Homo sapiens: one gene and its partners. The protein of the gene in region 6 purifies or fractionates together with the protein of the main gene of each other region. This does not show direct contact. Each region holds a gene or a part of one and is shown on either strand. Other genes may lie near its edges. The genes, in order: NUP160, SAAL1, IPO7, TTYH3, NOP9, UXS1 and NUP98.

The links.
Region 1: the proteins of UXS1 (region 6) and NUP160 purify together in Homo sapiens (affinity purification with mass spectrometry; 2 studies listed by BioGRID and IntAct, with this or other methods). This does not show direct contact.
Region 2: the proteins of UXS1 (region 6) and SAAL1 purify together in Homo sapiens (co-immunoprecipitation; 3 studies listed by BioGRID and IntAct, with this or other methods). This does not show direct contact.
Region 3: the proteins of UXS1 (region 6) and IPO7 purify together in Homo sapiens (affinity purification with mass spectrometry; 2 studies listed by BioGRID and IntAct, with this or other methods). This does not show direct contact.
Region 4: the proteins of UXS1 (region 6) and TTYH3 purify together in Homo sapiens (affinity purification with mass spectrometry; 2 studies listed by BioGRID and IntAct, with this or other methods). This does not show direct contact.
Region 5: the proteins of UXS1 (region 6) and NOP9 purify together in Homo sapiens (co-immunoprecipitation; 3 studies listed by BioGRID and IntAct, with this or other methods). This does not show direct contact.
Region 7: the proteins of UXS1 (region 6) and NUP98 purify together in Homo sapiens (affinity purification with mass spectrometry; 2 studies listed by BioGRID and IntAct, with this or other methods). This does not show direct contact.

Annotation. Positions count from the first base shown.
Region 1 is NC_000011.10:47,813,851-47,817,350, forward strand, and holds part of NUP160 (nuclear pore complex protein Nup160), read right to left. Parts: intron 2,180-3,500; coding exon 2,096-2,179; intron 1,800-2,095; coding exon 1,629-1,799; intron 1-1,628. UniProt on the Homo sapiens protein: Functions as a component of the nuclear pore complex (NPC). Involved in poly(A)+ RNA transport.
Region 2 is NC_000011.10:18,096,083-18,099,582, forward strand, and holds part of SAAL1 (protein SAAL1), read right to left. Parts: intron 773-3,500; coding exon 689-772; intron 1-688. UniProt on the Homo sapiens protein: Plays a role in promoting the proliferation of synovial fibroblasts in response to pro-inflammatory stimuli.
Region 3 is NC_000011.10:9,446,140-9,448,627, reverse strand, and holds the end of IPO7 (importin-7), read right to left. Parts: 3' UTR 501-2,488; downstream 1-500. UniProt on the Homo sapiens protein: Functions in nuclear protein import, either by acting as autonomous nuclear transport receptor or as an adapter-like protein in association with the importin-beta subunit KPNB1.
Region 4 is NC_000007.14:2,648,986-2,652,485, reverse strand, and holds part of TTYH3 (protein tweety homolog 3), read right to left. Parts: intron 2,920-3,500; coding exon 2,847-2,919; intron 2,574-2,846; coding exon 2,498-2,573; intron 300-2,497; coding exon 244-299; intron 1-243. UniProt on the Homo sapiens protein: Calcium-independent, swelling-dependent volume-regulated anion channel (VRAC-swell) which plays a pivotal role in the process of regulatory volume decrease (RVD) in the brain through the efflux of anions like chloride and organic osmolytes like glutamate.
Region 5 is NC_000014.9:24,302,850-24,306,236, reverse strand, and holds part of NOP9 (nucleolar protein 9), read right to left. Parts: intron 3,256-3,387; coding exon of another isoform or gene 3,247-3,255; exon of another isoform or gene 3,170-3,246; intron 3,164-3,169; coding exon 3,023-3,163; intron 2,506-3,022; coding exon 2,380-2,505; intron 2,197-2,379; coding exon 1,960-2,196; intron 1,745-1,959; coding exon 1,639-1,744; intron 1,300-1,638; coding exon 1,142-1,299; 3' UTR 605-1,141; coding exon of another isoform or gene 472-604; 3' UTR 291-471; coding exon of another isoform or gene 100-290; 3' UTR 1-99. Other genes in the region: lipid transferase CIDEB, read left to right, coding at 100-290, 472-604.
Region 6 is NC_000002.12:106,145,802-106,149,301, forward strand, and holds part of UXS1 (UDP-glucuronic acid decarboxylase 1), read right to left. Parts: intron 1-3,500. UniProt on the Homo sapiens protein: Catalyzes the NAD-dependent decarboxylation of UDP-glucuronic acid to UDP-xylose. Necessary for the biosynthesis of the core tetrasaccharide in glycosaminoglycan biosynthesis.
Region 7 is NC_000011.10:3,675,555-3,679,054, forward strand, and holds part of NUP98 (nuclear pore complex protein Nup98-Nup96 isoform 1 precursor), read right to left. Parts: intron 1,067-3,500; coding exon 955-1,066; intron 823-954; coding exon 605-822; 3' UTR 1-604. UniProt on the Homo sapiens protein: Plays a role in the nuclear pore complex (NPC) assembly and/or maintenance. NUP98 and NUP96 are involved in the bidirectional transport across the NPC. May anchor NUP153 and TPR to the NPC.

The DNA of each region.
Region 1 (3,500 bases), on a different chromosome or scaffold from region 6:
CACGAGGTCAGGGGATCGAGACCATCCTGGCTAACACGGTGAAACCCCGTCTCTACTAAAAATACAAAAAATTAGCCAGGTGTGGTGGCGGGCGCCTGTAGTCCCAGCTACTGGTGAGGCTGAGGCAGGAGAATGGCATAAACCCAGGAGGCAGAGGTTGCAGTGTGTTGAGATCGTGCCACTGCACTCCAGCCTGGGTGACAGAGCGAGACTCTGTCTCAAAAAAAAAAAAAAAAAAAAAAAAGAGTGCCACTGTACTGCAGCCTGGGTGACACAGCAAGACCCTGCCTCAAACAAACAAACAAACAAACAAACAAAAAAAAGAAACAAGCATAGTCTTCAAATAACATCATTCTCATGAAAGACAAAGAAACGCTGATAACAGTTTGAGGTTAAGCTAAAGAGACACAATAACTAAATACATATATTAGATTGGATCCTGGACTTTGGGAGGCCAAGGTGGGCGGATCACCTGAGCCCAGGAATTTGAGACCAGCCTGGTCACAACATGGCGAAACTCCGTCTCTATTAAAAATACAAAACTAGCCAGGTGTGGTGGCGCGTGCCTATAATCCCAGCTACTCTGGAGGATAGGCAGGAGAATCGCTTGAACTCAGTAGGCGGAGGTTGCAGTGAGCCGAGATTGCACCACTGGACTCTAGCCTGGGCGACAGAGCAAGACTGTCTCAAAAAAAAAAAAAAGATTGGATCCTGGATCAGGAAAAAAAATTATGGGCACAATTGGCAAAATCTGAATATAAACTATATATATATATATGTTATATTTGGCAAAATTTGAATATAAGCTGTATAATATTATGTCAATATCAAATAACCTGATTTTTAAATTGGGCTGTGGTTATTTAATATCTGTGTTCTTAGATACATGCTGAAATATTTAAGGATATTTAAGGATAAAGGAGCATGATATCTACAACTAACTTCTCAGTAGTTCAGGAAAAACTGTTTAGAGAAAGAAGAAAAGCATATGGAAGTTAACAAATGATGAATCCAGATGAAGGGTATACAGGAATTCTTTGTGCTATTCTTGTAACTCTTACCTTAAGTTGGAAATTACTTCAATATAAAAAGTAAATAGGCCGGGTGTGGTGGCCCACGCCTGTAATCCCAACACTTTGGGAGGCTGAGGCGGGTGAATCACCTAAGGACAGGAGTTCAAGACCCACCTGACCAATATGATGAAACCCCACCTCTACTAAAAATACAAAAATTAGCCGGGTGTGATGGTGTACACCTGTAGTCCCAGGTACTCAGGAGAATTGCTTGAATCCCAGAGGCGGAGGTTGCAGTGAGCTGAGATCACACCACTGCACTCCAGCCTGGGTGACAGAGCAAGACTCCAACTCAAAAAAAGAGAAAAAAAGAAAAAGAAATAAATACAATAAAATACAAAAAAAGTATAGAGAATAACACAGAAAACTATTTAAATGAATGAATCACAATTTTAGGGGAAAAAATACAAATGCAAAGTCCTAAATGCTAACCGCAACATTCACCAGACTAACATTCGGCAAGAGCCACTGAACTTTTTGTTTTCTGAAGGCATTTTGTTATAACAGCCACTGAACTGTCTCAAGAAGGTCTTCTCTATGCTTTAGCTCACTTACTTTTTTCAGCAGGCACACCATGTTTGTGTGTGGATTCAAATGTAGGGCAAGAGGGTGAGAGAGGGCTTCTTGATACTGAAGACAACAGGCATAGAACTTGCACCAGAATTCTTGTTGTAAATTTCGAAACTCCTCCTGGGAGAATTCATACTCTGTTACACTTCCTTGAAGCTGGCAAAGAAGAAATGAAAGAAATTAAACTTTTGATGCCATTCAGGATCTTTGTCCACAAAAAACATAATTGTCCAATATCATTATACTAAGCTACAGCCAAATGAATATTCCTTACGTATTAAAGGCCATAGACTATGCAAATGTGTATCTGATTCTCTAGTTAAAAGGTTTAAACATTTATATGTTCCAACAAACAAGGTCAAGTGAAGAATTCCAGTAATTCCTCGGTCAGTACCAATCTGCCCTATATCAAGATGGAAGGAATTCTTATTCTTTCTCTACCCAAGCCTCACCTCATTTTCAACAGCTAAAGTAACTTCTTTCTTCAGTTCACTCCAGGAAAGATCCAAATTCCTCTCAGTTCCTCGGCAGAAAATCTAACATTAAAAGACATTTTAGACTTCTATATAATAGCCAAAACTGAATGGAAAACGTTTCAGTTTAGAAGACATAGAGGCAATATAAAACTATATAATAGAGATTTGGCATACCTGGAACACACATCACCCAAGAGAAAGTTAAGAAACTGGGTGTATTTAGTCTGGAGAAAGGTGACCTGGAAAGATTCTTAAAATACTTGAAGGGTTGATTTATAGAAGAGAGGCTTCCTTTTCAATGACACAGTTTGGGAATAATAACTCCCACAAGAGGTAGTGACAAAGTGGTCAGTGGAGGTAGAGACAATTAAAGGCTGAATAACTATCACAAAAGCCTCAGAAGGCATTTCTGTTTTATGTGGGAGGTCAGTCTAAAATATTCTAATATAATTTTCAATTATATGAGTTATTGTATTTTAAATCCATCCATGAAGCTAAGTAGTAATTTAAAGAAGCCTATGCAAGCTGGGTGTGGTGGCTCATGCCTATAATCCCAGCACTTTGGGAGGCTGAGGCGGGTGGATCATTTGAGGCCAGGAGTTCGAGACAAGCTTGGCCAATATGGCAAAACCTTGTCTCTACTAAAAACTACAAAAATTAGCCGGGTGTGGTGGCATGCGTCTGTAGTCCCAGCTACTTGGGAGGCTGAGGCAGGAGAATCACTTGAACCCAGGAGGCAGAGGTTGCAGTGAGCCAAGATCGTGCCACCGCACTCCAGCCTGGGCAACAGAGCGAGACCCTGCCTCAAAGGGAAAAAAAAAAAAAAAGTCTATGTAACTTTTTGTTGTTGTTTTAATAGAGATGGGAATCTTGCCATGTTACCCAGGCTGGTCTTGAACTCCTGAGCTCAAGCAATCCACCCCCTTGGCCTCCCAAAGTGCTGAGATTACAGGTGTGAGCCACTGCACCCAGCCAGAAGCCTTTGTAACCTTAAAAAATCCTTTCAGTTTTTTTTTTTTTTTTTAAGATAGGGTGTCACTCTGTTTCCCAGGCTGGAATGCAGTGGCATGATCAAGGCTCACCATACCCTTTACCTCCTGGGCTAAAGCAGTCCTCCAACCTAGGGCTCCTGAGTAGCTGGGACCACAGGTGCATGCCACCACACCTGGCTATTTTTCTATTATTATTATTTTTTTTAGAGATGGGGTCTCCCTCTGTTGCCCAGGCTGCTCTCAAACTCCTGGGCTCAAGTGATCTTCCCTCTTCAGCCTCCCAAAATTTTGGGATTACAGGTGTGAGTCACTACCGTTGGCCAAAGAATCCTTTTGTAAAGCACTGGGCTTCTCTTATACAATGAATTTGAAGCCAAAAACTTTTTTTT
Region 2 (3,500 bases), on a different chromosome or scaffold from region 6:
TTGTCAGTAAAAAAGAGAAATCAACTGAAAAATGGGAGGCCCAGGCTCTGTTCCTTGTTCTGATACATACTAGCAGCATAACAGTGGTTATGCCTAACTCGTCTCCACAGCTGGTAAATGAAAGTGCTAATTTCCCTGGTCCGGCCTGAATCTAAAATTCTATGATTTTCATAATTTTAAATTATTAAATTATTAATAATTTAATATTTTAAATTATTACAGGCATTTAGCTCACGCTTATAATCCCAGCACTTTGGGAGGCCAAGGTGGGAGGATCACTTGAGGCCAGGAGTTCAAGACCAGCCTGGGCAACATAAGGAGACCTTTGTCTCCACAAAATAAAAATAAAAATTAGCTGGGTGTGGTGGCTTACACCTATACTCCCAGTTACTTGGGAGGCTGAGGTGGGAGGGTCCCTTGAGCCCAGGAGGTCAAGACTGCAGTGAGCCGTGATCACGCCACTGCACTCCAAGCCCTGGAGACATAGTGAGACCCTGTCTCAAAAATAAAATAAAATAAATTTAAATAGCAAATTACCTAGGACCTGGCAATGTTCAATTAACATCTACAGGCTGATTTGTTGATTTATGGTCAGTAAGAAAATCAAAGTGAGAAAAATAAAAGACTATCCAGCACTATCTGTTCTTATTGCTTCAAAGAAGAAGGCTTTAGAAATGTACATACTTACTCTTAATCGAGGACACTTGGACTTGGCCAGTACTCCCATGAATATATCAGGAGCATTAAATTCTTGGAGAAATAAAGCCACGTCCTGAAAAGAAAAATGATTATTAACTTGGATGTTGAATATTCCTCCCTAAACCCTAAAGCTCAGGCAACCATAAAATTCTATATTAAAATTAGAATTTTACGCCAGGCGCAGTGGCTGACACCTGTAATCCTAGCACATTGGGAGGCCAAGGCTGGCAGATTGCCTGAGCTCAGGAGTTCAAGACCAGCTGGGCAACACGGTGAAACCCTGTCTCTACTAAAAATACAAAAAAATTAGCCGGGCATGGCGGCATGCACCTGTAGTCCCAGCTACTCAGGAGGCTGAGGCAGGCGAATCGCTAGAACCCGGGAGGCAGAGGTTGCAGTGAGCTGAGATCACGCCACTGCACTCCAGCCTGGGTGACAGAGCGAGACTCTGTCTCCAAAAAAAATAAAAAAATAAAATAAAATTAGAATTTTAGACACAAGAAAAAAAAAACACAGGCTTAGGAACTGTGTCAACAGACAAAAGTGATGTTAGAGAGTCTTTATGGTAACTAGTCCCAGACAATGGAACAATTTCATAAACAAATCTAAACTACCTACAATACTCCAGAGGATTATCCCACTCTTTTCTGCCCGAATCTATTTACCTTAATAATTTTTCTGCCCACTAGGAATTCTCATTAAACACATTCAAACACATTTGGTGATTACCTATCAGGTATTAAACTAGAAGCGGGGGACAAGGGAAAAAAGCAACACGCTGGGCGCAGTGGTTCACACCTGTAATCCTAACACTTTGGGAGGCTGGTTAGAAGGCCGAGGTGGGTGGATTACTTGAGCCCAGCTTGGGCAAACATAGTGAAAACCCATATCCACAAAAAATACGAAAATTAGCCAGGTGTGGTGGCACATGCCTGCAGTCCCAGCTACTTGGGAGGTTGAGGTGGGAGGATCACTTGAGCCTGGGGAGCTCAAGGTTGCAGTGAGCCATGACTTTGCCACTGTACTCCAGCCTGGGCAACACAGCGAGAAAAAAAGGAAAAAAAAAAAAAAGGTAAAACTTGGCTGGGCGAGGTGGCTCACGCCTGTAATCCTAACACTTTGGGAGGCCAGGACAGGCGGATCACTTGAGCCCAGGAGTTCGAGACCAGCCTAGGCAAACATAGTGAAACGCCATCTCTACAAACAATACAAAAATTAGCTGGGCATGGTGGTGTACCATCTGTAGTCCCACCTACTCAGGAGGCTGAGGTGGAAGGATTGCTTGAACCCGTGAGGCAGAGGGTGCAGTGAGCTGAGATCTCGCCACTGCACTCTAGCCTGGGCGACAGAGTGAGACTTTGTCTCAAACAAAAACAAAATTCCTTCTTGTCCTCCAAGAGCTTAAAACACGGTAGGGGAAAGAAGTCAAGAACTGCTATTGGGTCCTGTCCAAAACCAGAATTTGTGTTTTCAAAATCATCAATAGAATAAAAATTCTGATCACAATGTAACTGTGGCAGCCTCATAACTTCTTCCTACAGAGTCTGCCACAGTGCCTAAAGGGGCGTAACACACAGGTGACATGTGAGTGGACATGTGGCCCCAAATGAGCCAAATCTCACCTAGGAATGTAAGACACAAAAGCTAAGTCAGTTTGCTTGGGGACCTGCAATGTAAAATATATAAATAAAATTAAGTCTCTGGCTGTCCACTGCTTCAGATTTTCACTAAATGTGAGGTGTGTATTTGAGAAGCCTTAACTTAAAATATAAGCTGCATGGCTTATGTGAAAATTAAGGGCCCTGGAACATCTCAAAGAGACAGGCAATTATTCTCCACAGCAAGTGAAACCAGTAACCTGCCAGACAACTGACTGAGAGAGACACACTCTACTTACTAAAGGACCATGGTCAGAGAAAATAGTATTTTCAAAGATACACTCTAAACTGAAAGTCATAATGGCAGATTCTCTTCACTGTAAGTGATCAAGCTGTCCTGTGGGCAATTCTTTGCCACATGCAGAAATTTTTAAATTTAATGGTAATTCCTGGAGTAGCACAAGGGTGGCCTAACAATATCAACACCAACAGTAATAAAATTAACATTCATTGAACAAGTATTAAATGCCAGGCACAGTGAAGTGGCTTGCATGCTATCTCATTTAATTCTCAAAACAACTCTATCAACTAGTTATCATTGTTAGCCCCATTACACTCATAAGCAAACTGAAGTTTAAAAAGTGTAGCAACCTGCCCAAGATTATACAGTCTCAGCAGAGCAAAGCTAGGATTTGAACCCATGAGTCTGATTTGAGCCTATGGTCTTGTTTTTTAAAAGAGATGGGGGTCTTGCTATCCTGTCCATACTGGAGCAGTGGCTATTCACAGATTCACAGGCATTATCATAGCTCACTGCAGCCTCCAACTACTGGGCTCAAGTGATCCTCCTGCCTCAGCCTCCCAAATAGCTGGGAATACAGGCAAGTACCCAGCGAGACTATGTTCTTAACCAGCACAACATGCTACCTCTCAGGTATTCATCTATTCATTCATTACTCCCCAAATATTTTCTGAAAAACCTAATAGGCACTGTTTTAGGTTCTGGGGATACATCAGTGAACAAGCTAAATAAGGGCTCAGTCCCATGGAATTTTCATTCTAAAGAAATGAACAAACAATAAATATAAAACAACTAAACTACACAATTTCTAAATGCTACAAAGAAAATAAGATATGTGCTAGAAACCAAGATAAAGCGGGCTACTTTAGACATGACATTGAAAAGAAGGCATTTCAGAAGGG
Region 3 (2,488 bases), on a different chromosome or scaffold from region 6:
GTCCTTAAAGGAAAGGGATATATCTGTCCCCATTGTTTGTTTTATGCAGTCATAATACTACATACAAATCTATTCAGTGGTAATACTACATACAAAGGATGAAGGGCCTAGAACAGTATTGGATCACTTCAGTTAGCTGAGTTACAGCCTGGGTCTAGAAGACCTTTGGAGAAGCATACTGCTTCTGCTAATGCTAGTTTTTGGATTGCCAGGTCAACTTAAAATGTTAACTGTTTATGTTAAAGAATCTATTATCCTAGCCTTCTCTAATTTGCAGGTCTGATTTAGGTAACTCCCCCAATTGAGAGATGCCAGTACTATCTCCAAGAGCACTTTCCAGGTAACCTTTGTTTACCATGAGCCAAAGTGTGAAGTGGCTATTGCAAGAATGGCCAACTCACCAAGGATAAAAGCTAGAATTCAGTAGGCACTGATAAATGGTCACAGAAAATCTTTACCAAAATTTAAATTACAAAGAACAGAACTGACAGTTTTATAACTGATGTTTTAAATTTAAGTCATTTATTTTACAAACAGAGACTACCTATTATACTTAAGACATTGTGTTAGATCTTTGCCAAAGACATGGTTTAGTCATACTAATGTAATCCATTTTTTAACTTTCCATATTAATTTAATTTTTAATTCATTTTTCTTTATGCTTGCTTCAGGGGCTACATCTGGGACTGAATAGCAGCATATGGCCCAAGGGCTGTGGTTTTGCCACTCATGCTCTATACTCTAGTCTCTTCCAGAGTTGAGTATAGCAGTCACTATCTTAATACAGTGTGTCACTATTTTATTACCTGCAGAGAAACAGATTAACTTCCTTTATTTAATACTGATAAATAGAAAGGCTTTTTCAAGAAAAAAAAAGAAAGCTTACATTTACAAAAGTGATTTATGCTAATATGTGCCATTAACAAAGACAAATACTGAAATCCACACAAAATCAGAATTAACTTCTACAACTAAAAAAAAATTACAGGGTAATAAAACTGTAGGAAAAGCTGTATGTAAAAAGAAAAAAAGACAAGTCCCTATGTAGCTAATTACAAGAGAATATTGTAAATACATTCAAAAAGTTTTCCAAAAATCCTGCAGCCTCATCTAGAAACTGATACATGTTAAGATTCTTGATCTATACCAAATTATAATGTTAAAGGAAATCATGAAAACTGAGGTATATATTTGATGCATTAGAAACTATCATTTGAACACTATTTAAATAGTTTAATTATAAGGTCTAATTTCAAGTTAAAGTCTGTAAACGGAGATTAGTTTGGATTATATGACACAGGAGACAATAAAACATGTTCTCAAAGACATGCCAATACATTTTCTTGAAACAAAACCTCAGCAAATGAGAATTTTCATACTGTGCATGGGAATAACTAAAACCTTTATTAGATATGATTTTCCATTAACAATAATGTGAAAATTAGAATTATGAATTCAAAAAGCAGTGAAGTCTGAAAATTTAAAAAGTAGACTAGGTATTAGGGGATTAAAGGTAAAGGAAGACGAGAATGTTTCTTTAATACTATTCATTATTTCCCCTCTGTACACAATGTTGCATATATACAACTACTTCATTTTTATTGACTTTATATAATAGTGAAATCCCTTTAAGCAACCTAGGGTATACAGTTGGTGTCCAACTTTCAGGGGATTTTCGGGGGGGAGTAGAAACACTTGATTAACAGTTTTCACCCACACACGTTAGACAATTTTTTTCTTTTTTTGCCAAGATTTTAGTAGTAAATTCATAAATATAGGAAATACTTTCACTCCTTCAGTGTTAAAATAGAAAACCAAACAGTGCCAACAGTAGTGGCTTAATTATTGGTATACAAGAAAAACACAACAACAATGGGTTTTCTTAATTACGCATTTTAAATATCAATATGTGCATTTGTTTTTACAGTTATAAATTTTTTTCTCACCTGTTTTAGACAACAGCTTGTAATAGTTTTGAATCCATTAAGATGTTGCTTTCAATTTGAAATATTTTGTGTATACATGTATATAAAAAATAACCCAATGTATGACTCATCTGACCGATGTTTAAGATCAATAACGGCTTATTTTTCAACATGCAGTTAGGAAGAGAGGGAAGCAAGCCAACCTCTCTACAGTATCTTTTTGCTGGCTTGTTTTTGTAGTGGTATCAATAGTGGTTTTTGGAGGGAACCATGTGCCTTCAGCCTATCTAGTCAAGATCAGATACCACGATCAACAAGAGCGGTAGAAGAGATGGGGAAAGGGGAGTGGGTAAGTGTTAAATATCAATTTTGTAAAGTGTGCATTTTGTACTCCTTCTAGGCACAGGATTAAAAACAGGCCAATGAGGAAAAATTTGTTATAATTAGGAAAAAACTGCAATCAAATCAAGACATAATAGCCGAATTAAGTTCTTTTAATAGATTGCATATATAGATGTTTAGCCATACTCTTAGATCAACTCTTTAAGAGCAGAACTTTATAT
Region 4 (3,500 bases), on a different chromosome or scaffold from region 6:
TCCCAGCGATGCGGGTGCATTGAGCAGGTCCCCCCGAAAGGCTCTCAGCCAGGTCACCAGGTCACCGGCATGGTAACCCCAGGGGCTGTTGGTGACATCCACACAGCCTTTGTCCAGCTCCCTCCCCCAGTTCCCCAGTCCTGCAGGCTGAGGAGCCAGGCGCCAGGCCTGCTGGGCCCCTCCACACACAGCAATGTGCTTCAGACTCTCCTGAAGCCCAGTCCCGGCCTCCCAGGCTCTCACCTGCTGGAAGGGGTTGGCGGCGCGGGGCGAGCAGGCCAGGTAGTACTGCAGGATGTCTGCGGAGAGACATCAGGGAAGGCTGAGCTGCAACAGCTGTCCCTGTGAGACTGCGTGCACGTCTGCCTGTGTCTGCACGCATATCTTCAGGGCATCTGCGTGCATGTTTACATGTGTGCATGTGTGTCTGTGTGCACCTGTTTACACATGTGCATGTGTCTGCATGTTTACTTACACGTGCATGTGTCTCTGTGCACGTTTCGTGTGCACGTGTGCCGGTGTGCATGTGTCTGTGTGTTTATATGTGTGCATGTCTGTGTGTACATGTCTTCGCATGTGTGTCTGCATGCATTTACACACATGCCTATGTCTGTGTGTGTGGCAGTGGGGTCTGGGCTCCCATCAAGCCAGAGTCCCCACACACTGCCCCTTGCCTGGGTTCCACCTTCCGAACTCTTTACAAGTTCAGTTCTTCCAATTATAAAAGAACATTAAAAAAAAACATTTTAAAAGTTCAAAAAATGATGAAAGTATTTAACAACATAGGAGAGCACCAGGCATCACTGTGGCCGCCTGTGCAGTGAAGCCAGCGTGGCTGGCCTTGCTGCCTTCTGGGAGGGGCTGTCTGGCCCGCAGGCTGGAGCTCACACTTACGTGTGTACATGTACACGTGTAGGGGGCGCTGCTCATACTTGATGAGATCCCCCCAAAGGCCGCCGGCTACAGTAGGGACCTGGAGGGACCAGGATGATAGCACCGGGGCCAAGGACAGTGGTGGGTAGCACTGAGCGGTCACCAGCCCTCCCCGCCCCTAGCAGAGCGGGCCCACCCCTCCACCCTCGCCCCCGAGGACAAGGTCAGTGGGCGGCAGATGACTTTTCCTCCAGGAGGCTCTTCAGGCTTTGGTGGAAGTGGTTCCTTCAACAAAGGCAGGTAAAAAACCAGCCCACAAGCCAATCCTGTGGCCTCCAGGGACAAAGGGTGGCAGGATGGTCACCTTCAAGGTCATTCAGTAACCCTCACCCCCACAGGGACAGGCCTTCTATTTCCTATTGGGGAACACACAATAATTCCACAAGGGGGGCCTGAGAAGCTTAACACACTGACGGCACCCCGATCTCCAGATTCCCACGTCCACCTGCCTCTGTGCCGTCCGACACACATCGCAAACCTCCCGAGGGGGCCGAAACTCCCGATGCCCCAGCTCCCTGCCCCCCACCTCCAGACCTGCTCCCCCACCCACAGTACAGCTTATGGTCCCGCAGCACAGAGCTGCTGAAACCAGGGACGCCAACTCCTGCTCCGTCCCTCTCGCTCCCTACATCCAACTGACCGGGAAGTCCTGCCAGCTCCGCCCTCAAAGCCCATCCCTGTCCACCTTTTGCTCCATTTATTCAAGCCCCTGCTGTCTCCTGCTTGAGGTATCCTCCTCACCCACTCTTGTAACCCTTGAGGCCTGAGGAAGCTTTGAAAGGGACCTTCAATCATGGGTCAAATCTCTCCCCTGCCTCCCTCCCTCCAATGGCCTCCCCCTGGAATAAAGCGAAGCTTGCCACAGAGACTCAGCCCCACTGGCCTCCCACCCTCCATTCTCCCCTCGGGTCTGCCTCCTGCCTCGGGGCTCTTAGAAGAGATGCAGCGTCCTTCTGGCTCTACTTTTTTTTTTTGAGATGGAGTTTCACTCTTGTTGCCCAGGCTGGAATGCAGTGGTGCGATCTCGGCTCATTGCAACCTCCACCTCCTGGGTTCAGGCAATTCTCGTGCCTCAGTCTCCGGAGTAGCTGGGATTACAGGCACCCACGACCACACCCAGCTCATTTGTGTATTTTTAGTAGAGACAGGGTTTTGCTATGTTGGCCAGACTGCTCTTGAACTCCTGACCTCAGGTGATCCACCCGCCTCGGCCTCCCAAAGTGCTAGGATTACAGGTGTGAGCCACTGCACCCAGACCTCTGGCTGTACTTTAATGCCACCCATTTGGCCTCCCCTGGGCATCTACTCGAAGCAGCCCTGGGTCACCTGCCGCTCCCCCTGCCACGCGGGCACCCGCCACCCCACATAGTTCCTGTCATTCTTTGCAGAGCCTCCCACTTGGGAAAGGTGGTCCTGTTTGCTCACTAGCATCTTGGCCTGGGACCTGTCTCCCTGAGACCATGGACCCACAGGGCAGGGGTGTCTCGGCCTCAGCTACCCCACTCTTTTGGCTCAGCCCAACCCTGGGGAACCCGCTGGGACACGGCCGTGGACACAGACTCACCCCCACTCAGCACCGAGTACTCCTCCACCATTTTGGTCACGTAGGCGTCAGGGTCCACACAGAAGTCGCTGGAGCCCTGAGGTGGGCGTGGGCAAGCAAGAGGGGTTGACCAAGCTGGGCCTAAAGGGAAGCTCTCGGGGGTAGAACCCGTCCCCTGGAGTCTGCTTTCAACTCAGGAGGGTGGACTGTGAATCTGGGGTTACAGGTGGACTGTGCCCATGGTGGGTCCCCACCGCTCTCGGGACCCAGTGCCCGGGAAGATGGGAGGGGAGAGGAGTGTGGCTTCCCCTCGTCCCTCCCCCAGTGCCCAGGTCCAGCAGCCGGGGACCTCACCCCCTCTGCCACTCACCACGGACACAGCCAGCTCCAAGCCCAGCGCGCCCCAGCTGATGACCAGGGCCAGGACTCCCAGCAGGCAGACCCTGGGGCAGAGACAGCCAGTCAGCAGCCCCCAGGCCAGGGTGGGGGCCGTGCCACCTGCTGGGCTGCAGGCCAGAAGGCAGGTCCCAGTGCACATCAGGGGTCAGCCCACACATGGGCTGGGGCTCTTCCTGTGGCCTGGCCTCAGCCAGAGCTGCCCACAGCCCAGGGCCCAGATGGATCCCTCTCCTAGGTGGGGTGGGGCTCAGAGATCTGAGCTGGAAGCAGGACTGGAGGGCCACGTGGCTCTTGGGGCCCCGCCCCTCCTGTCCCCCAGGTCCCTCTCCTGAACAGGCAACAGTGTCCACTTTCACGTGGGTCCCCGCATCCCGCCGCCCACGTAGCAGCCCAAGGGGCCTGATAACGTCAGCTAGATCAAGCCCTCCTGTGCTGAACCCTCGCTCAGCAACTGGGGACTCAGAGCTCTTGCTACGGCACTGGCCTCTCCCTCATCTGAGGCCTCACCTCACCCACATCTGGCTCCCTTTGATCCAGATACACAGGCCTCCTGTGCATACCCCACTGCAGGTGCCCCCACCACGAGTCCCCCATATCCCAGTTCAGATCCCCAAAACACACCCCA
Region 5 (3,387 bases), on a different chromosome or scaffold from region 6:
AGAAAGTCCAAGCGAGGGAGGGTCTGACCCAGTGCTGATGGAGATTAGTGGTGGGTGTCTGGTATGAGGATCTACTGCACTGACAAGGGTGTCCTACAGAGTGGAGTGCTGTCATATGGCCTGGGACGGGAGAGGCCCAAGCACAGCAAGGACATCGCCCGATTCACCTTTGACGTGTACAAGCAAAACCCTCGAGACCTCTTTGGCAGCCTGAATGTCAAAGCCACATTCTACGGGCTCTACTCTATGAGTTGTGACTTTCAAGGACTTGGCCCAAAGAAAGTACTCAGGTCAGAAATCAACATGTCATACTGCCCCATCCCCTACAGTTGGATAGTCCCCATAATTCGTCCTCTTGCACCCACCTACCCCTAGTTAGCTCTTGCTTGTGGAAAGTCCTCATCTCCCAGCTTGATGGCTTCCTCCCAAGTTTTCCAAATCATCTGATTTCCTCTTGTCTCTGCCATTCAGGGAGCTCCTTCGTTGGACCTCCACACTGCTGCAAGGCCTGGGCCATATGTTGCTGGGAATTTCCTCCACCCTTCGTCATGCAGTGGAGGGGGCTGAGCAGTGGCAGCAGAAGGGCCGCCTCCATTCCTACTAAGGGGCTCTGAGCTTCTGCCCCCAGAATCATTCCAACCGACCCACTGCAAAGACTATGACAGCATCAAATTTCAGGACCTGCAGACAGTACAGGCTAGATAACCCACCCAATTTCCCCACTGTCCTCTGATCCCCTCGTGACAGAACCTTTCAGCATAACGCCTCACATCCCAAGTCTATACCCTTACCTGAAGAATGCTGTTCTTTCCTAGCCACCTTTCTGGCCTCCCACTTGCCCTGAAAGGCCAAGATCAAGATGTCCCCCAGGCATCTTGATCCCAGCCTGACTGCTGCTACATCTAATCCCCTACCAATGCCTCCTGTCCCTAAACTCCCCAGCATACTGATGACAGCCCTCTCTGACTTTACCTTGAGATCTGTCTTCATACCCTTCCCCTCAAACTAACAAAAACATTTCCAATAAAAATATCAAATATTTACCACTAAGACTTCTGACTCCAATTTAAACCAGGAAAGGGATGGGGTGGATACCCCATTTTGCCCTCCCCCATCAACACCCAGTCCCAGATCCAAAGCCTCAGTCTTCAAGTATGGAGTTCAATGCCCGCCTCCGCTTGGCCACCGCACCCTGCTGCTGTTCCCAAGCCTCTCGCCGCTTTAGGAAGGTAGTCAAGGCCACATTTCGAGCCACATGGTGGCCGAAAGGGTCTCTTATCAGCTCCTGGTTCTGCTCCCCTGCAAAGGGAACCACTCATGTTTAGTACTACCATGCTCAAAGACAGACTCTACTTGACGTAAAGATCCCTCCATTTCCCCCAGACCCTGGGACTGCCACTGGGATAAAGTGAACACTTCACTTTCCAAAGAACAGAAGTCAGAGGGCAGGGTGAGGGCAGAGGACTACACAATCAGTCAGCGGGAGGGAAGGGGAAAGCAGACTGCTAAGAACCCATGAGCAAGACCACCCTTTGGAACTAAAGACTGTTGAATTTCAGTAGACTTCCCAGCTACCCAGTGATCTGGAGTAAGAGAGGGGAGAGTCTGGAAACATCAAAGAGAGGGGCTGGTACTCACCAAGCTCAGCAGCAATTTCCTTCCGGGCCCTCAAGGCTGCTCCACTCCAGATGGCATCTAGCACACGGCTGCCATGGCGACTACAGGCCAGAGCCACATATTGTCCCTGTATGGAGACAAGCAAAGTAGGTCTCCCTAGCAAAATCCACAAAAGTATTTTGGAGGCTTGTGGAGAGTGAATTTTCTGAAGAGTTTAAGGGCTGAATTAAAATAGTCTAGGAATTACATAGCCTTTTTGAGTCTGAAGGTACAGTCCAGGGAAAGCTCATATTCTCTAAATGGATGATGGTGGGGAATCAAGGCAAAAGCCAGAAATCTAACCTTTAGGTTCTGCAGCACACGGCGGCGCAGCTTGCGCGTCACAGAGGGGCTGGTCAGGATGGCATCGAGCACATGAGAGCCAGCGGGACTTTGGGCAAGGGACAGAAGCTGTGGTCCCGTCAAGGCACCCAGACTTCGAAGTACAAGACCAGGAGTGGAGAAGTGCAGCAGATGCTGGAGCAGTAGAGACCCAAGGACTGTCACATCCCCCAAGGCTCTGGCTGCGGCCATTGCCACCTGGCAGCGCAGAGATAAGAAATTAGGAGGCACCAACAAGCCAGGTGGATGAGCCCATCCCCAGAACACTGCCACCTCCACCTGGATGAAGTCACCACTCTCACCTCAGAAGTCAGACGCTTGCTAAACCCTGGGAGGCCTGACTCCCAATTAGTCACTGGCTTGGCCTCTCCCCTACCTCACCTGGTGCTCTGCAGGCACTGCCCCCTCCTCCTCCGTCAGTCCATAGTACACCTCATAAGCCATCAAAGTGGCAAAGAGAGGCACACAGGCCACTTGCCGGGATGAGGGCTCTGCACAGTGGAATGCCTAAAGGAGAAGACAGAATATGATGAACCTGAGAACTTCTCCGTCCCTTACCTCAACTTTAAGGGAACACCTTCAGGAAAGGAAAGAAGGCCCAACTCCACAAGAATGTTAGCTCCATGAAAGCAGATGTCATGCCTTGCTGTATCCCCAGCCTCTATCACATACAGGGGTTAATAAATGTTTATCCCTTAAATAAACTTCTCTCTTAGTTCTGGGAGACAATTTTTGTTCCAGGACTGTGAAATAACATTTGGCCTCAGCCGGGCACGGTGAGCTGAGATTGCGCCACTGCACTCCAGCCTGGGCAACAAGAGCAAAACTCCGTCTCAAAAAAAAAAAAAAAAATTAGCTGGGTATGGTGGCGGGCACCTATAGGCCTCATTTTCCCCCATTCCTGTGAACTCCTTGGGCATTAGACTTCCTGAGTCCAGAGGTACAAAAACTTAAGATTAGATAAGTCCTAAAAGGTAGAAGTTGAACTGAGGGCATAAACAGATTGTGGGTAATATCCACTCACCTCCAACAAGAGCTGTAGGACCTTGGCTTGGTAGGCCCCAACTCTGCGACAGGCCCCCACCAGGGCAATGACTACCCCTGGGTGGCCCTGGGCCAATACAGCTTCCAAGACAGGGCTCAGCTCCTCAAACACAGGGGACAGCTGATGGGAAACATGGAATGTAACTCTGGCATTCTGGTAATGGCGGACCACATTATTCAGAGAAATCTTCCCAACGAAAACAACTAAAAATGCTAGATAAAACATAAAAAGCATTGCCAGTATCAGGACTTTTGTTTGGCTAGATAAGGCCCAGGATAAGGGGGCAGTCTTAGAGGTGCCACCTCACAGGAAGGAACTTTAAGTGGCTCTTCCCTATGTGTAAG
Region 6 (3,500 bases):
CCAAGAAAAAAAAACTTAATATTTAAGTTAGATTCAAAAACTGCAGGAAAAACAAATATCTTTTAAATTGTTTATGAGAACAAATTAATAAGCAATACATGCTGTTTGTAGACTAAAGCCCTAAACGCCTAAGTCCACTGTGTGGTTAATTTCTGAATGGTGATGTGAACCCAGTGTGGTATACACTCCCAGCCACAGAGCACGATGAGGCAGCTGTGAGGGGTCTTGACGGTAACTCAGTAATAACAAAACCTAGACCCCTGCAAAGGTGAAAAGTCAACTGCGCTTGAAAAATACTTTTAAGTTGAACACAGGTATTTTATTCAAATTAAATGGTGTAACTGGAGGAGGATAAAGGGAATTTCATCTGGGGGAAGGTTATAGGCGGTGGGAGTGAAAAGAATAGGCTCAGAAAACAGACGTGCCATGCACAACTCAATTCTCTAGCCTGCTGTATCCTGTTCTCCACTCTGCCTTCTCTTCACCAAAATTCTCATTCATTTCACCCTTCTGTTTCAAACGGAAAGTATTAATAGGAAGACAGCAATCCTTTCTACCTAAAATAAAAGGTATACAAACTCCTAGGTCTATGGTTTTAAAACATGTAATTCTCCATGAAACTCCTGTTTAAAATAAATGAAATCTCACACACGATGAAGTATTCACCACGGTGAGAGAGTAAAGCCACCTGGATTTGAGTGGAGTGGTAGCTCATGCCTGTAATCCCAGCACTTTGGGAGGCCGAGACAGGTGGATCACTTGAGATCAGGAGTTCAAGACCAGTCGGGCCAACATGGTGAAACCCTGTCTCTACTAAAAATACAAAAAATTAGCTGGGCGTGGTGGCACACTCCTGTAATCCCAGCTAGTTGGGAGGCTAAGGCAGAAGACTCACTTGAACCCAGGAGGCGGAAGTTGCAGTGGATCGTACCACTGCACTCCAGCCTGGGTGACAGAGAAGACTCCATCTCAAAAAAAAAAAAAAAAAAAAAAAAGAAGCCATCTGGATGAAAAAGATCAAAAATGGCAGAGGAGAAGTAAGGGGAGGCTATAAACTAAAAATGAAATTTGGGTTGGGTGCAGTGGCTCATGCCTGTACCCAACACTTTGGGAAGCCAAGGTGGCTGGATCATTTGACGCCAGGCGTTCAAGACTAGCCTGCGCAGCATGGTGAAACCCCGTCTCTACTAAAAATACAAAAATTAGCTACACGCCTGTAATCCCAGCTACTATGGTGGCTGAAGCACAAGAATCACTTGAACCTAGGAGGTGGAGGTTACAGTGAGTTGAGATCACACCACTGCACTCCAGCCTGGGTGACAGAGCGAGACTCTGTCTCATAAATAAATAAATATCCTAAGTCCCCCAACTGAGTGGGCCCCCTCTTGGCCAAACGGAACCCCAGAGAAACCTGAAAAGCTGAGTTCCCAGCAGTGATGTGAAAGGAGATTGGACATGCCTCACTATACTTTCTCTTTTGGAATTTAGACACAACTGACCAACGTTAATATTAAAACAGAGATCATAAACAGGACCTAGGGTCGTGCCAGACAGGAGCTAAGTCACATCCCTCCAAGTCATTCTGACCCAGTGTATTGGTGAACAGACTTCCTTGTCATAACTTAGATTCCTTTCTGCTGACTCCAAAGTTTTACACAAAGATTTACTCCTTTAACCAATTACAAAGTAAAAAATCTCTAAAGCCAGGGAGGTCAAGGCTGCAGTGAGTGGCAATTGTGCCACTGCACTCCAGCCTGTGTGACAGAGAGAGACCCTGTCTCAAAATAAATAAAATAAAATACAGAATCTCTTAACCCGCCTATACCTGTGAGCCCCCACTTCAAAATAGCCTGTCTTTTTGGGCCAAACCAATGTAAAAGCCCTATATATTGATTTATACCTCCTTGTAACTTCTGCCTCTCTAAAATGTATAAAACTAAACTAATCCGCCTGCCTCGGGCACACTTACTCAAGGCTTCTTGGTTTTGTGTTTCCTGGGGCTGCAGTTACTCATACTGGATCATAATACACCTCTAAAATATTTTAGAGTTTGGTTTTTCAGTTAACAAGGCCAACCTCAAGAATAACCATCCCTTAACCACCACATAGATATTACATATGCTCTGATGAAATGCAAATCAAATGGTTAAGACAGGATGGGTGAGACCAGGCATCCTCATGCTCGATAGCTTTCATTTGGCTTTACCAACAGCACCATTTTCCAAATCCCCTTTGCCTTCAAGATAAGAAACTGACACCCAGAGAAGTTACGTCTTTGACTAAAATCCTCAGAGATCACTAGCTGGGACACACTAAAGCTACAGTCTTTCTAATTACACGCTCTCTACTGCCTGTCAATTTGTCTGGTTCGTGTTTCATCTTAAGAGCTCCCACATTCTACTGCTATACCTGAACAATGACTATGAAAAACGATTTTCCAGAAAAATAATTGAAATTCAAAGTTGACTCACCACTAGAGCTTAACTCACGGGATGAGATTTCATTTTATCTTCACGTTATTGCATTTTTTCCAAGTTTTCCATGATTTTTACATTTAAAAACTTGCAACTTTTAAAAAGAAATGTAACCCCTTTTAACATAACTGTTTCTCTATATGCAAATATTTCTGAAAACAAAATGTTCAGTGGCACTCTAACATTATCTCTGCACCCAAAATACCTGGCAGACAGTTCTGAGATATCAGAGATGCAGCGTATTAAATTACACATGATCATCTCCAACATCTCACTAGTCTTAGTACTGACGTAAAATTGTTGGAAGCACCTTAGCTTGACTAAAATGCACTGGAATTTTTTTTTCTGAAGTAATTTCCTTCTACCTAAAATACTTAAGATTTATATAATATAGCTGGATGGTTATGCAATTTTTTATCCTAATCAATGTTAGCCCATTAGGCAAGTGTTTCAAATAGAAACAAATTTGGTGAAAGCTTAGCACTTACAAAGCTCTATCAGGAACACTAATCACCAAACCCAAGGATATTCTTTGAATAACAAGGAGCTAATACCCAAAAGAGAACAGGAGAAAAGAAGTAAGACCTCTTACACTGAGATGGATTAGAACTTACACGGCTTTGCATGGCTTTCCAGTATAGGGGTTTGTCTCAGTGTGCTTTCTTGCTCGCTCTTGTGGGTGCCAATAGGCAGCTAAAGTGGTCTAGTTCAAGGTCAGCAGTCAAACTCATGATGCTTAGCAAATTAGCAAAAAATCAAAAAATGTATTTCAAAGCAAGTCTCCTCTTTCTGTTGAAGCTGTCCTAAGGCTTACCAATTTACTGAAAAGGCTTTAAGTTATAGCAACAATATACCAGACTCACATGCCAAATGCCTCAGAAATGTGCTTAACCTATGAGATGGCAGATGAGGGGAAAAAAAAAACTAAGTCTGTTTGCTGTGGTGATGTGTAAAGCAAAATAAATTCTATAATACTCAGCATCGACAGGAAGATCATTCCATGTGCACATAATAAAATTCATGGCA
Region 7 (3,500 bases), on a different chromosome or scaffold from region 6:
AGCCCTGAAGATCAATCCCTCCGTGACAGGCATTCACTTCTGCCCTAAGTGTGTCAGAAAGATCCCATTTTGTTTCCTAACTCAGGCCAACCCTCCTTTGCCTCCAAAATTCAGTGTTAACTAACCAATTACTTAAGAGACGGATCCCTCTTCCTTCTGTGGATAGTTCATCTGTTAAGGATCCATTATCACCTGTCTCACTCCTCCTAAGGAGTCCTAGTATAAAAGGGCCAGGGTAGGAGTAGGGAAGCTGGTTGGCATGGAGGGTCACAAGATCCAGAATGGCTAGGGATGGAAAAAGAATACCCTGGTTCTTTGGGGGATTCTGCCAAAGGAGCTTTATTGACCATTTTTTTAAAGGAAAAACACTGAATGATCTTGAGGATGGTAAACTGTCTCCTCTTCTGGGTTCCAGAAGCCCTTATGCTACGTTCAGTATTAAGAAAAGCCCTGAACAAGTGGAGGATGCTGCTTCTGGCAGCAGGGAGGGAGGGTAGATGCCACAGCCAACCCAGAGAATGGCAAACAGTGCCAATCCAAACAAGGCAGGGAACCTCTGTGTGGTGTGAATGGGCATGTGACTGTGATGCAAAGTGCCTGGGGCTCACAGGCTCCCAACAGCCAGTTCTCGCAGATAGGACTGGGTAAGGCTGCGCAGTTCGTCCATGGCATAGTCCTCAGGCATGGGAAGCCGGCCAATGTGGGGAGCCAAGAGGCGCAAAGGGACTCGCTGAGGGTCTGGTGTTGAGTCGGAGGTTCTATCAGGAGGATGATGCAGACTCAGCACCACGCGCAGCAGGTTGGCTACACGTTTGGCCATGTCTAGAGAGAAAAACTAGAGTCAAGCACTGAGCATGGGGTCTGGAGAAGGGTGGTAGGCACTGAGGGTGGGGTGTAATAATCATAAAAACAGGAAGCAAGAAGGCAGAAAGAGTGAGGAGGTTAGAGGCTTACCTGACTGAGCCAGGCGATCTTTAGCACTGTAACACTGAATCTGCTCTATCCGACTGCACAGTGAAGTCACTTTGATGTGTAACTGCTCCAGGTCATTACCTGAGCAATCCACCTACAAAGAAGCAGAGAAGCCAATTAATCCAAGGGGAGTTCCTATCACTCCAATCCCACCTATAGACTCTACACAAAACCTTGAAACAACAGTGAGGTGAGGGAGGGGAAAATCCAAGATGATGACACAGGGCCAAGCCACCACCATCTAGTGGAGGACAAGGCACTAATTATGCAGTAATAGCCAAGAGGAAGGTAACACAGTTACCTAGCCTTGGACTAGGAAAAGTCTTGAGATCCCGAACTATACAGCAAGCTTTAATAACACAGCACCAAAAATCAAGATAAATTGGGTTCAGAGAGATGGTATGACTTCTAAAGAGCACACAAGGAAGTAAAAAATGCAGCCAGAACCAACATTTAATTTAGGTCCCCTGACTCCAAGTTTATAGCCTTTTCTAAAACACCAAAAAAGCTGTGTGCAGGGGGCAGGAGGATCAAGAGCAAGACAGGTTATTTGCTCTCATGAAACTGATAGAAAATAAATAAGAAAACACAAAACAGTAATAAATCCTGAAAAATCACAAGCCATGTAGATAATTTAAACAGGTGGATGTGGCAGAGAGAAACTGGATAGCTACTTGAGACTGGAGGACCAAGAGAGGCTTCTTTAAGGAGGTCATATTTAAATTGAGACCTGAATAACAAGGAGAGAGCTCAGCTTTCCAGGCAAAGAGAAGACAGCTAAAACCCCCAAAGGTGGGAATTCAAAGGAGATTTACATGGTGACATGTAGGGTAAGGAGAAGAAGCAGAACAAGATAATACTAGAGAGTTTTTATGTAACATAGGTTTTTTTTTTTTTTTTTTGGGAGAAGGGGGGTCTCGTTATGTTGCTCAGGCTGGTCTCAAGCAATCCTCCTGCCTCAGCCTCCCAAAGTACTAGGATTACAGTCATGCACCACCACATCCAGCTATGTGCTGGCACATTGATAGTACCCTTTGCTTAATCCCTATACTTATCAAGCTATAGTAATTGCTGCTTTACTTGTATGTATCTCCCCCACAAAATCATTATTTTGGTAAGGGCAGAACACATACTGTTTACCTTTATATTCCCCAAACCCACTACAGTGCTTGGCATACAGTGAGTTCTCCATAATAGGTTGTGTGAATGAATTACTCAATATTCAATGAGAAAGTGGTTTCTTCAAGTGATTATTTAGAAATGATGTTCTTGATTCATACTAAAAGTACAGCAAACATTGAATTATGTCTATTATGTGCCAGGCACTGTACTAGGAGTTGGAACTTTGATGAGGATAATAATAGATAACAATTATTAAGCATTTAGTAGAGGCCGAGGTCAGGAGTTTGAGACCAGCCTGGCCAACATGGTGAAACCCCGTCTCTACTAAAATACACACACACACACACAAAGCTGGGTGTGGTGGCACACGCCTGTAATCCCAGCTACTGGGGAGGCTGAGGCAGGAGAATTGTTTGAAGCTGGGAGATGCAGTGAGCTGAGATTGTGCCACTGCCCTCCAGCCTGGGTGACAGAGTAAAACTCTGCCTAAAAAAAAAAAAAAAAAGGCATTTAGTACATGAAAGGTACTATGTAAAACACTTCATGTAGATTTTGTTTAATCTTTGTGAAAATCTGTCAATATGAACTATAATCTGTACTACTGTCTACCCCACCCACCTTTTTCTTTCAGACGAGAGAGGTAGTTAACTTGCTCAAGATTACATAGCCAGTGAATTTGGAAGCCACAAATTGAATCTATAAGTCTGCTTCCAGAACTTGAGCTGTTAACCTCTACACTCTATTGCCTGTAACCGTAAAAGACCTTCCCAAAAGGGGCTTATAGCAACCTGAAAATATGAATAAGTAACTACAATATGGTCTGACAGGTGCACTAGTAGAATAATGTACTAAGTATCTTGGTAGTAAGAAAGTGCAATTAATTATCTCTGGGGAAAAGCAGAGAGAAGTAGGGGTAACAGCAACCTAGATCTTAAAAGGATGAGTTTAAGTGTGCTAGGTAGTGTGGAACATAATATGGTTTGTTAGAAACACCAGAAGTAATTTAGTGTGAGTACAGCAGGCTAGCAAGGCTGGAACGTGGAATAAGAGTGGTAGGAGTAAGGCAGGAAAGGTAAAAGCCTCTAAAAGGACTTGAATCCTATATTTATTATAATGAGTTTGGTTTTTGCACCATAAGCAAGCAGTGGAGACTCATTTTACGACTACAAAGACTGACCTTAAGGCTGCGTGCAGGCGTGCGGTAAGCTCATGCCTGTAATCCCAGCAATTTGGGAGGCCAAGGTGGGCCGATCACTTGAGGCCAGGAATTCAAGACCAGCCTGGCCAATGTGGTGAAACACTATCTCTACTAAAAATACAAAAGTTAGCTGCGTGTGGTGGCACACACCCTATACTCCCAGCTACTTGGGAGGCTGGGGCATGAGACTCACTTAAGACTGGGAGGC